Linked DNA regions of Homo sapiens: region 1 is linked to region 2. Evidence: fine-mapped expression QTL. A gene starts in region 2. The other region holds a variant in brackets. All regions are shown on one strand. Distances are between the middles of the regions.

The links.
Region 1: its variant is fine-mapped to the expression of MAP2K6 in whole blood (TOPMed, PIP above 0.99).

Annotation. Positions count from the first base shown.
Region 1 is chr17:69,499,728-69,504,957 of GRCh38, forward strand. All of the region lies in intron 1 of MAP2K6 (mitogen-activated protein kinase kinase 6), which reads left to right. Among named protein-coding and RNA genes, the nearest start is that of MAP2K6-AS1, 17 kb to the left of the region's middle. RefSeq lists enhancers at 4,236-4,285, 4,356-4,415. The variant A/G (reference allele first, on the strand shown) is at 2,465.
Region 2 is chr17:69,412,805-69,418,034 of GRCh38, forward strand. MAP2K6 (mitogen-activated protein kinase kinase 6) reads left to right here and starts at 1,893. Exons shown (of 12, transcript NM_002758.4): 1 at 1,893-2,196. The coding sequence starts at 2,181.

The sequences.
Region 1 (5,230 bases), 87 kb after region 2:
TAATAAATAAATGCAGAAGTAAATAAATAAATACAAAAATAAAATAATTCTAGATTGTGAGAAAAGGTTTGCGGGAAATGAGTGGAAGATGGTCGTGGAGATCTATTGTAGAGAGAGTGGACATTTTTCAACTAAAATATCAAAGTTTCAGGGAAGCTGCTTTGAGCTCATATTGTGTTGCAGGCTGAGTGTAAGGTGCCAGAATGTGAAAGCAGGAATGTGTGGATAGTAATCCTTAGATTGTGTTCAGGAAGCTCTGGGAAGGTTCTATGAGGGAGGTTTTGAATTTGGAAGGTTGAGTTCTTGTCTGCAAGACAGCTAGAGCCCTCCAGGTAGAAGGAACAGTATGAGCAAAGGTAAGGTCTTAGGAGATTCATTCTGACTCTGAAATCAAACTGACTGCAGGTTTTAAAATGAGCTTTTCAGCTGGGCACAGTGGCTCACACCTGTAATCCCAGTAACAGCACTTTGGGAGGCTAAGGCGGGCGGATAACCTGAGGTCAGAAGTTTGAGATTAGCCTGGTCAACATGGCGAAACCCCATCTCTACTAAAAATACAAAAATTAGGCGGGTGGGGTGGCACGTGCCTGTATTCCCAGTCGCAGCTACTCGGGAGGCTGAGGGCCATGAGAATTGCTTGAACGTGGGAAGCAGAGGTTTCGGTGAGCCTAGATAGGACCACTGCACTCCAGCCTGGGTGACAAAGTGAGACTCTGTCTCAAAAAAAAAAAAAAAAAAAAAAAAAAAGGCCGGCCATGGTGGCTCACGCCTATAATCCCAGCACTTTGGGAGGCTGAGGCAGGTGGATCACGAGGTCAGGAGTTCAAGACCAGCCTGACCAACATGGTGAAACCCCATCTGTACTAAAAAATACAACAATTAGTTGGGCGTGATGGCGGGCACCTGTAATCCCAGCTACTCAGGAGGCTGAGGCAGGAGAATCACACAAAGCCGGGAGGCGGAGGTTGCAGTGAGCTGACATTGTGCCACTGTACTCCAGGCTGGGTGACAGAGCAAGATTCCATCTCAAAAAAAAAAGAAAAAAAAAAAGAGGTTTTCAGCTTTTCTTCTCTAAACTTTCTGTAATTCCAGAGAGATTTGTCTTCAGTGTTTGGAATCTCAGTGGTATATAAGAGCCAGTGGTTTTGGAAGATTGGAGGATGGCAGAGTCCCTGTTCACTTTTACATTGCTGTTGCAAAGCCAGCTTTCTTCCTGCATGCCTCTTCCCCTGCCCTGCTTCGTTCGTTGCTTTGCATATGATGATTGCAATTTAATAACACTGAATGATACTTCACTGCTGGTTTTATTGCCAACTACCCTTGGAACGTAAGCCTAGATGCAAGTAGTAAGGAGAGGGCAGCCAAGGCCTCTAGATTGCCAGTTACTTGGCTGGAAATCCCATTCATATTGGGAAACAGATTTTTAAAATAAATTTGGCACTGGAAACACTGCCATCCTTTTGTGAAGCTGTGTCAATAATCATAAACTCTCATAGTCGTGCCCCCAACCCTCGGCCAAGCTAACAAATATTTAGGCATCAGCATATCTTCACGATGCCACCTTCTGTTGACCGCGTGGGCTTCTCATGCTGTTTGGGTTGGCAGTGGAACATAATCTTCTGTTTTATGTAATGAGGAACATCAGAGGAGTGCTTTGTGCTTACCCTCTCAGAGTGTGTGCAAGACCTCTCGTGTACCCCATCATTTTCGGTGCAGTCAAAGCTAGCGAACATTTCTGTGGCCTGGTAAATATTTTCTAACTATTGGCAAGGCTTTTTAAATTTTTTTTTCCAGTGCCATTTTGCTCCAGGCCAGGATTATAATGACCCAGCTTTGCTTTGGTTTCAGATGAATTTTGCAAATATATGTGTGTGGTGGGATTACACTATTTTCAGAGAACACAGTCATGCGGGTAACAGGGTCTGATGCAATATAGTGCTGCATATGCCCAATCAGGCCGACGAGGCTTACCCTTTGCAGACTGTGCCAATAAGCAGTCGAGGCTTGTTGCGATCTGCAGAAATCTACAGAATTCTCTGTTTCCGAGAAGGCTTGTTGCTAGCATATGACATCATAGAAAGCCTTTTTTTTTTTCTGACATTTTTTCTGCTTTGCTTTAGAATATCAAAGGCAAAGACTGTTGAACATAGTTGGCCACTTAGCTTTATTATTCATAGTGCTCCCTCCCATGTTTTTTTTTTTTTTTTTTTAACAGTGTTCAATGTTAGCGTCAGGTGTTGGCTGCCTTCCTGGGGGAACAGATTGCTGTGAAGTAAACACAGCTGGAAACTGACCACATATTGTTTTTCTTTCTTTTAAGAAATCAAAGAGGCATTTATAGAAAAGCTGCAGAACATGGTACTGTCCAGATTTATAGATTTATTCCTCCAAGTCTGGTTAATGATTAATGTCACGCCTGGGTGTCCACATAGACCCACTTCCCTTCTCCCTTCCTGAAGCTGCA[A/G]TTTCCTCGGAACAATGAGCTTGCAGAGGTTTGCTGCAATCCGAACTTGAGGAGGGGGTGGAGTCTGTTCAGTTCTGTTTCTCCTTGCCGAAGTGTGGTCTTTGGAGCTAAGTGAAGAATGACTTCTGTTAGGTTTTCCTCTGCTGGTCTTCCTTGCAGCCTCGAAAACCTCACCAGAGTCGCCTCTGCTGGTCTCTTACTGTGCTGCTCTGTCAGAGATGGGCAAGTAAGCGAACTGCAGAGTGTTGCTGTGTGTGCTTGTGATTTGTATTTTATTTGATGTAAACGTGAAGGCAGAGTATTTTCTAACACTGTAATTCAACTAGGTTTTGTGTCTCCTGGATCTATTTTTTTTTCTTGTTGTTCTGAGGAGCTGATATACTTGGAAATATTAGGTTTAAGATATGCAGATGTCCAACTTATATACATAGTCAAGGGTTTAGAGTCTGGAGACAGGAGGCTGGCAATTTCAACTAGGAGGCAGTAAATTCAGGGTAAGAATGATGTTGATGTGGGGGGCTGTGGGGGTGGCTGGGTGTAACAGTGATCTGGGGAGAGAATCAAAGGCCTTCTCCTCCCACTTGGAAGACTTTACTATTATTTTGGTCTTTTATTCCTTTGGTCTCTGTGCTAAAAACTTTCTCTCTTTTTTACTGTTTCTTTGTATAGATGTTTTGGTGATTTAAGTTATGGTGTAATAATTAATTGCTGTTAAGAATTGCTACTAATTACTTGCTATATTAAAGTTTTCCAAAGGGGTTTTCTCAATAAATAGCTATTTCTCTTTACATCTATCTTGTAAGAACTGAGTTAGAGGTAAAGAAGAGAAAGATGTAGGAATTTAAGAGTAACTTCTGCTTTTGGTTTGCTTAAATGACAACTGGAGACCAGTTTTCATAGGCAAAATATATGTTACTTTAGTTTTTGTTTTCGTTGAGAGAACTGTAGGGTCGCCTTTTGGGATTACCTGAATTATCTGTCACCTGCACTGGAATTTGTATGTAGTTATCTGTATAGTTATCTAAACAAGTTGAATCCGTCATTCATTCCTCACTGAAGAATCTCATCGAAAGTAACATTCCCTGTCTGTTTGGCTGAGGTGCATGGATGGGAATTGTTGGAATTAGGCCATATATCTATTTGGATTCTCATAACTGGGTCCAGCACCTAGCATAGTTCCTGGTACATAGGAAAGCTCTATGCGATGTCAATAACTGACTAATTTAGTAACATCCTTAACAGCTGTTTGAGTTCCAAGAGCAGGAAAGTGAATGGTGAGTTTTGAACCTTATAAAATACATAAGTAAACCCAAATGAGGAGAGAATTGAGAAAGCCTCTTATTCTGAAGGTGGTCCTAAAAGGCTTTCTCTAGGCTGATTACTGCGAAGCATATTTTTTCCTGGCTATATACAACTTGGCAGAATTGATCTGATTTTGGATTCTGAAGGAATTGAAAAATTTCATTATACATTATAGTGGGCTATAATGATGTGGCCAGTTCTCTTCATTAATTTTTTAAATGACTTTAAAAAAAATGAGACAGTACTGATTGTTTCCCTAAATGAATCTAATTAACAGCTACTTAAGGTATCTTAATGTTTTTTCATATATGTTATCTGCTTTGATTCTCATATCAGTCCAGTGAGGTGAGTATGGTTGTTACTTCCTCATTTTACAATTGAGAAAACTGAGAGTCAGATGAAAAGTGATTCTAGAAGTTGCGTGATGCGTGGAAGAACCAGATGTCAGCTGGGTATTTTAAAACTCAAAATCCCGGGTACGTCTCACCTGCCCCCTCTCCAGTCATCTCTAAACGTCTTCTATTGCAGGATAGTAGAAAGAACTCCCACCTGGGTGTCAGGAGACCTGGATTCTGATTCTGACTGGGTCATTGCTGACCTCTGTGATGTGGAGCAAGTCACTGAAGTCTTTGGATGTTATTTTTCTGCAAGGAGGTTATTTTAATTGGTTTAAGTTTCTTTGCAGCTTCAGGATCTATCCAGGGCCATATCCAGGGCTTGTGTTATCTCTGAGTGCTCATCTGCAATGTAGAGAAGAGGTGGGAAAGGAGGTAGGATTCTTTTTTTTTCTTTTTTTTTTTGAGACAGAGTCTTGCACTGTCGCCCAGGCTGGAGTGCAGTGGTGTGATCTCAGCTCACTGCAAGCTCCGCCTCCCAGGTTCACGCCATTCTCCTGCCTCAGCCTCCCCTGTAGCTGGGACTACAGGTGCCTGCCACCATGCCCGGCTAATTTATTGTATTTTTAGTAGAGACAGGATTTCACCGTGTCGGCCAGGATGGTCTCCATCTCCTGACCTCGTGATTCGCCCGTCTCGGCCTCCCAAAGTGCTGGGACTACAGGCATGAGCCACCGCGCCTGGGCAGAAGGTAGCATTCTTTCCAGCCATTCTATGCAGCTCTCCCTTGGTTTCCCCTGCCAAGTGCAAAGAGACACAGGATCTCCATGCATGAGGAAAACCCCAGGCCCTTGTTTGCTCTGTTCTGCTTCCTGAGCTGGCATTTCTCAGTCTGTTCTTTTTTACTCATCAACAAAAGTATTCGAGCCAAATTCTCTTGTAATTTCAGCCCAGGTGTGATCAACATCAAGTTACCTTTCCATTTGGCCCAAGAAGAAGTTATAACTTCCTTGCATAAGCTCATCTGTTATCTTAATCCTTTCTGGAACAGGGAAAATGTAAATAAGTATTACTCTATCCCTCTCTTAAGTTTTTCAAATTACAGCAGGTGGTTGGGAAAAGGGGAGGG
Region 2 (5,230 bases):
AAAGGGGACCAACTTAAGTAAATTAATGTTAGTCTCACAACCTATTGCATATTTAAGATTTGATTTGCTGGTTTGCAGCTGAAATAAGACGGCTTCCTTCCCTCTAATGCATCCCTTATGCAGATGGTCCTGGCTTCCAGCATCCTAAATACAATTCCAATAGTTTTCATTAGTAATCATCAAATCTAGCTGAATCTTCTTTCAAAGTGCCTCTTTTTGCCTTTCACTACTGACCTAACCTATCTCTAGCCTCTCCCAGTTCCAACCCACCTTGATTGCTGAGGGCAAATTTACTTTCTTAAAACAATGCTTGGATTAAGTTACGCCCCTTTGCAAGACCCTTTCACCTCCCCGCAAGTACCTGCAGAATAAAGTCCAAACCTCTAGCCCACCTTTTAAGGCCCTGTGGAGTCCTCACCTGTAAATCTCCCCCGCCCTCACCACTCCTGCACACAAGGCAACAAGGTCTCCTTGGCAGCTTCTGAGTAAGGTTGTCCTTATTTCTGCCACAGTGCTTTGTCCACACCTCCTTGAATTCCTCAATTCCTCCCTCTGTCTTAAAAGAACATTTCTGAGTCTGTCTGCTCCATGAAGTATAAGTCCGAGCTCATTTTTGCCCATGCCCTGCTCACTCCTCTCCATTCCTTGCAGTGAATTGTGCTAAGCATCTCTGGCTTCCTTGTGAAAAAGGTGATGCCGTTCTCCATCAGGGTGCTGTGTACCCACTATGTGTGAGCGGTACAGAATGAATGAACATCCCAGGGCCCTAGAAAGGCGCCTGGCACATCCTGGACACTCAACAAGTATCTTTTAATTTTAATGAATAAATTCAAGATATTCGACTGTATTCATTTTCCACCCACTTTCCCCCTAGGCCAGGGACTCTCCTCCCAGGTGAGAAAAAATCATCTAGATACCTTAATTTTGATAAAGTTAGCGTTGATGTATAAAAAGCAGAACTTCCTCTGTAACCCTGTGAGAAATGAGAAGCCTCCAATCTTCTTCCCCACACCTACCCCCTACTGAGTTTCGGGTTCCTTGGAAATAACTGACCTGGATTGTTTCTGACAAAATAAAACTTTGCATCTTCTCCACAGAGCAAAGGTAACCTTACCTCCAGCCAACCCAATCATCCATACATTTTTCTTACTAGAAAAAATGTTTTTAAAAATGGAGGTGTGGCCGGGCGCGGTGGCTCACGCCTGTAATCCCAGCACTTTGGGAGGCCGAGGTGGGCGGATCATAAGGTCAGGAGTTCGAGACCAGCCTGGCTAAATGTTGACACCCCGTCTCTACTAAAAATTAGCCGGGCGTGGTGGCGCATACCTGTAATCCCAGCTACTTGGGAGGCTAAGGCAGGAGAATTGCTTGAACCCGGGAGGCGGAGGTTGCAGTGAGCAGAGATCGCGCCACTGCACTCCAGCCTGGGCGACAGAGCGAGACTCCCTCTCGGGAAAAAAACAACAACAACAACAACAAAAAAACCCCCAAACAAACAAAAAACGGAGGTGTGAGGGTAAAACGTCTACAGGCAAGAACAGCACAACAGGTGCTGAGCTGCAAAATCAACACACTAAACTCCCAAACAGACCTTCTCGACAAGCCAAAAGCTCTTTAGCTAACCTAATATTCTTTAGCTGTTGTTTCAGAGGCTTTTCGAGAACAAAACTGCCGCCCCGTCTTGGCCTTGCCGCTTTTCACCCATCACTCTACTGAGTGTGTGTCTGACTTGTTTATCTGGACGCAATCTTTGTCGCACCCAGTTATCTCGCTCAGCGACCGGGGCGACCACGTTTCCTTAAATCAGAGCCCCGTGGACTCCGCCGGAGAACTACATTACCCAGCGGCCTTCGCGCCCTTCGCAGGAAGGACGTCTGCGCACTAAGATACTCAGTTCCAAGTTTGGAGCTTTTAGCTGCCAGCCCTGGCCCATCATGTAGCTGCAGCACAGCCTTCCCTAACGTTGCAACTGGGGGAAAAATCACTTTCCAGTCTGTTTTGCAAGGTGTGCATTTCCATCTTGATTCCCTGAAAGTCCATCTGCTGCATCGGTCAAGAGAAACTCCACTTGCATGAAGATTGCACGCCTGCAGCTTGCATCTTTGTTGCAAAACTAGCTACAGAAGAGAAGCAAGGCAAAGTCTTTTGTGCTCCCCTCCCCCATCAAAGGAAAGGGGAAAATGTCTCAGTCGAAAGGTAAGAGGCTGTTTGCATTAGTTGCAAAAATGCAAAGGGTTGTGCATGCATTTATGAATGCATGGATGCAATTTTCGCCTGGCGAGTGCATTTTTAAGTTTGAGGTTTTCCACAGCTCAGTTGCATTTCCTGTTTAGTATGTGTCTTTTTTTGCAGACACAGAGAGTTCCTGTAAGGCAGGGCTTGCAGTTCAGCTGTGCATTGACGTTATTTGCATTCTTCTGCTAGGATTACTGAGCTCTTTTTGCCTTTTGCACAGTCAGGAGAGACAGAGCAGGTTGGTAGCGTCTAAATGTGCAAGGCTTTATATAATTGTAAAATTCTTTACTATGCACAGATATTGTAAGTAATTTTGTATGCAACAGGAATAGAAACTTTTAAAAACTCTATAGGTGAAGATGAAAGGTAAAACTTGAGTTAAACTACTAGGAAATTAATGTAATCTTATATTCTTTGGGGGAAATAGACCGTTGCGGTGCCAGTATTTAGCTAAATTTCCATTGATATCGCCTTGAACATTAGGTAACTTTTGATTTTTAAAGGAAGTAAAGGTGAAGGGTGAATAACAGCATATCACAAAAAAGCAGACGAGTCTTGCTCTTCTGAGATTTTGCACTTTACACCAATTGCTTATTGGCTCGCAAAATTTAGAAGCAGCAGTGAAGACCTAATGTTTTATGTCTGCCCATTTGGGGGATGCTTTGCATCTTGGGGGAAAATATTGGGGGTAAAACTGTACTTTTAAGCATTACAGTAGTGTGAAGGGACTGCACTGTTTCATTGACAAGCATAATGAAATATTTTAAGTGTGTAACTGCGTGTATTTAGTCAGCTGTAATAGGTTGGAAGTTCACGTTATGGTTGTTTTCTTTATGTTCTTTTATTTTCTTTTCTTAATTTTTGTTTTTAAACACAGTTGTATTTTGCAGGCTTAATGTCACCCTGGGAAGGGGATTTAAAAAATTCCTGATATGACATCAAAGAGCAGACTAGGTGCTGTCAGGTGCCCCTGGGACCCCAAGTCACTTGTTTCAGAACAATTGTTTCTTTACCATAGAGAAAGCATATGCCATATGAGAAGTATGGGATGATGAAGAGAGGTGTTAGATACTATTGAATTAGGCTACCCGGGGCACTCTTTGAGTAAGACATGGTGAAATTAAAGGGTCTAACAAGCTTTTTGCTACTTTTTTGGGAGGGAGTGTGGGGAGTTGTTGCACCGCTTTTTAATTCTACCTGATGGGAGTCATATATCTCAGCAGCCCAAGAAGGAAGTAGTAATCTCAAGCATTCAAAGTAGCACTCTGCTTTTCTTTGAGTATTAGGGGAGAATGGAAATCTGAAAAGTTAAGAGTGCTGAAGAACCTAGGAATTGACATATCAGGTGGAGATGTTCCTCAAGTGGGGAAAACCTAAAAATCTCCTTATTGAGTAGAGAAATAATAGTTCAGAAGAGGCAGTCCATGCTTTGATGTATTAAAGAGATGGCATTTAGTTACTTTGTATTTGGTAAACATTCGCTCATTCATTCAATTCAGTTTAATATATGTGTAATATATTGTGATATGCATGTATATACATATGTATGTGTGTATATATATGCATGTATATGTATGTATTGTGTGTGTATGTGTGCACATGATTTAGGGACACACAAAAATATTTAAAATGAAGTTTTTCCTTCGGGTTGGTGAAAACAAGAATGTAAGGAAATCATTATAATACAAGATAATAGGACAGGTATTGAAGAGAAATGGTGCTATTGGAGTTTAAAAATGGAAGTGATTTATCTATTTGGGGGATAGTCAGGAAGGTTTATGAAGAGGGTGGTGTTTACTGTGATCTTATCTTTGGACTTTAGGGTCTAAACTAAATCAGGCTCCTTTTTGCATATTTTTGGGCTCACTATGAACGTGGCTCCCTCTTAGTAGAGCCAGTTTTTGAGTTGAGAAGCCAAAGGAGATATTAGCACTGCACTCTTCCCTATGGATGTGTTTACAATGGATCAGGTACTGGTGGTCCTTCAAATCAATTCCCATTTACCCAGATGAGTTTTCTTAATTGGATTCTGCTTGGAAAGTACATCTGGAATGAACATGGGGTTCTTGTCCGAAAGGAAAATTATTGGTAGAAAGAAGTGGGTGATCATTTTAGAAATGGCAAAAGAGCCAGCCGCCTTGGCCTGGACTTTAAATGTGGAATTGGCCTTATTCAGCTACGCTATTCTCAAATGGCCAAAATACTTTTTGCAGTACCAAACTTCTTTTTTAATATTCTAACCCAAGAAATGGGAGGAAAAGTGAAAAGTGGATACAATCTCATAGTATTGAAGAATTTAACAATATGTTCAATTCAAGGACCTTTACGAACTTTCTAGATCACTATAATTCGGTTTAACAGACCTCTAATTTAAGGCACAGCAGAGGCAAAGGAATTACAGACTCTCTGGAAGCTGGAAGGACTGGGTTACTGCTCTACAGCCTTACCAACAGTGAGATTCCGAGAAAGAATTTCTTAAAAAGAAATTTTGTTTTCCACAGTTGTAACTTTAGGTGGTATGCTTTTCAGCTTGTTTATATTAGCTGTCTGGGGTTGAGTTGACATTTTTCAAATATTAAAGCAGTAGAATGCCTTTTGAGGAAATCTGAAATGTAAGTTAACAGGAAGGGCACCCAGAAAGTGCAGGAATTCCTGCACACTACAGGAAGACAAGCTACAGGAAAAATGTGTCATCTACACTACCCGGGAGAGAAAAACTATTGTTATCAGCCATAATGATCTCCGGAGGGAGGGAGAGAAAGAGGGAGGTAGGGAGATCTGGCATCCCCCAGTTCACCTGAAAATACACAAAAAGTTTGACCCTGTTAAAATACACTTTTCTCACTTCTCCTCCTATTCACCTTTAAAAAATATTAGTTTATTTTAGTTTTAGAGAGCAATAAGTAAATCATGTAAGAAATGCCTATGAGGCACAATTCAGAAGCATATAGCAGAGTGGTAGGAAAGGTCTTAACTCTACTGGGGTTCTTTGCTT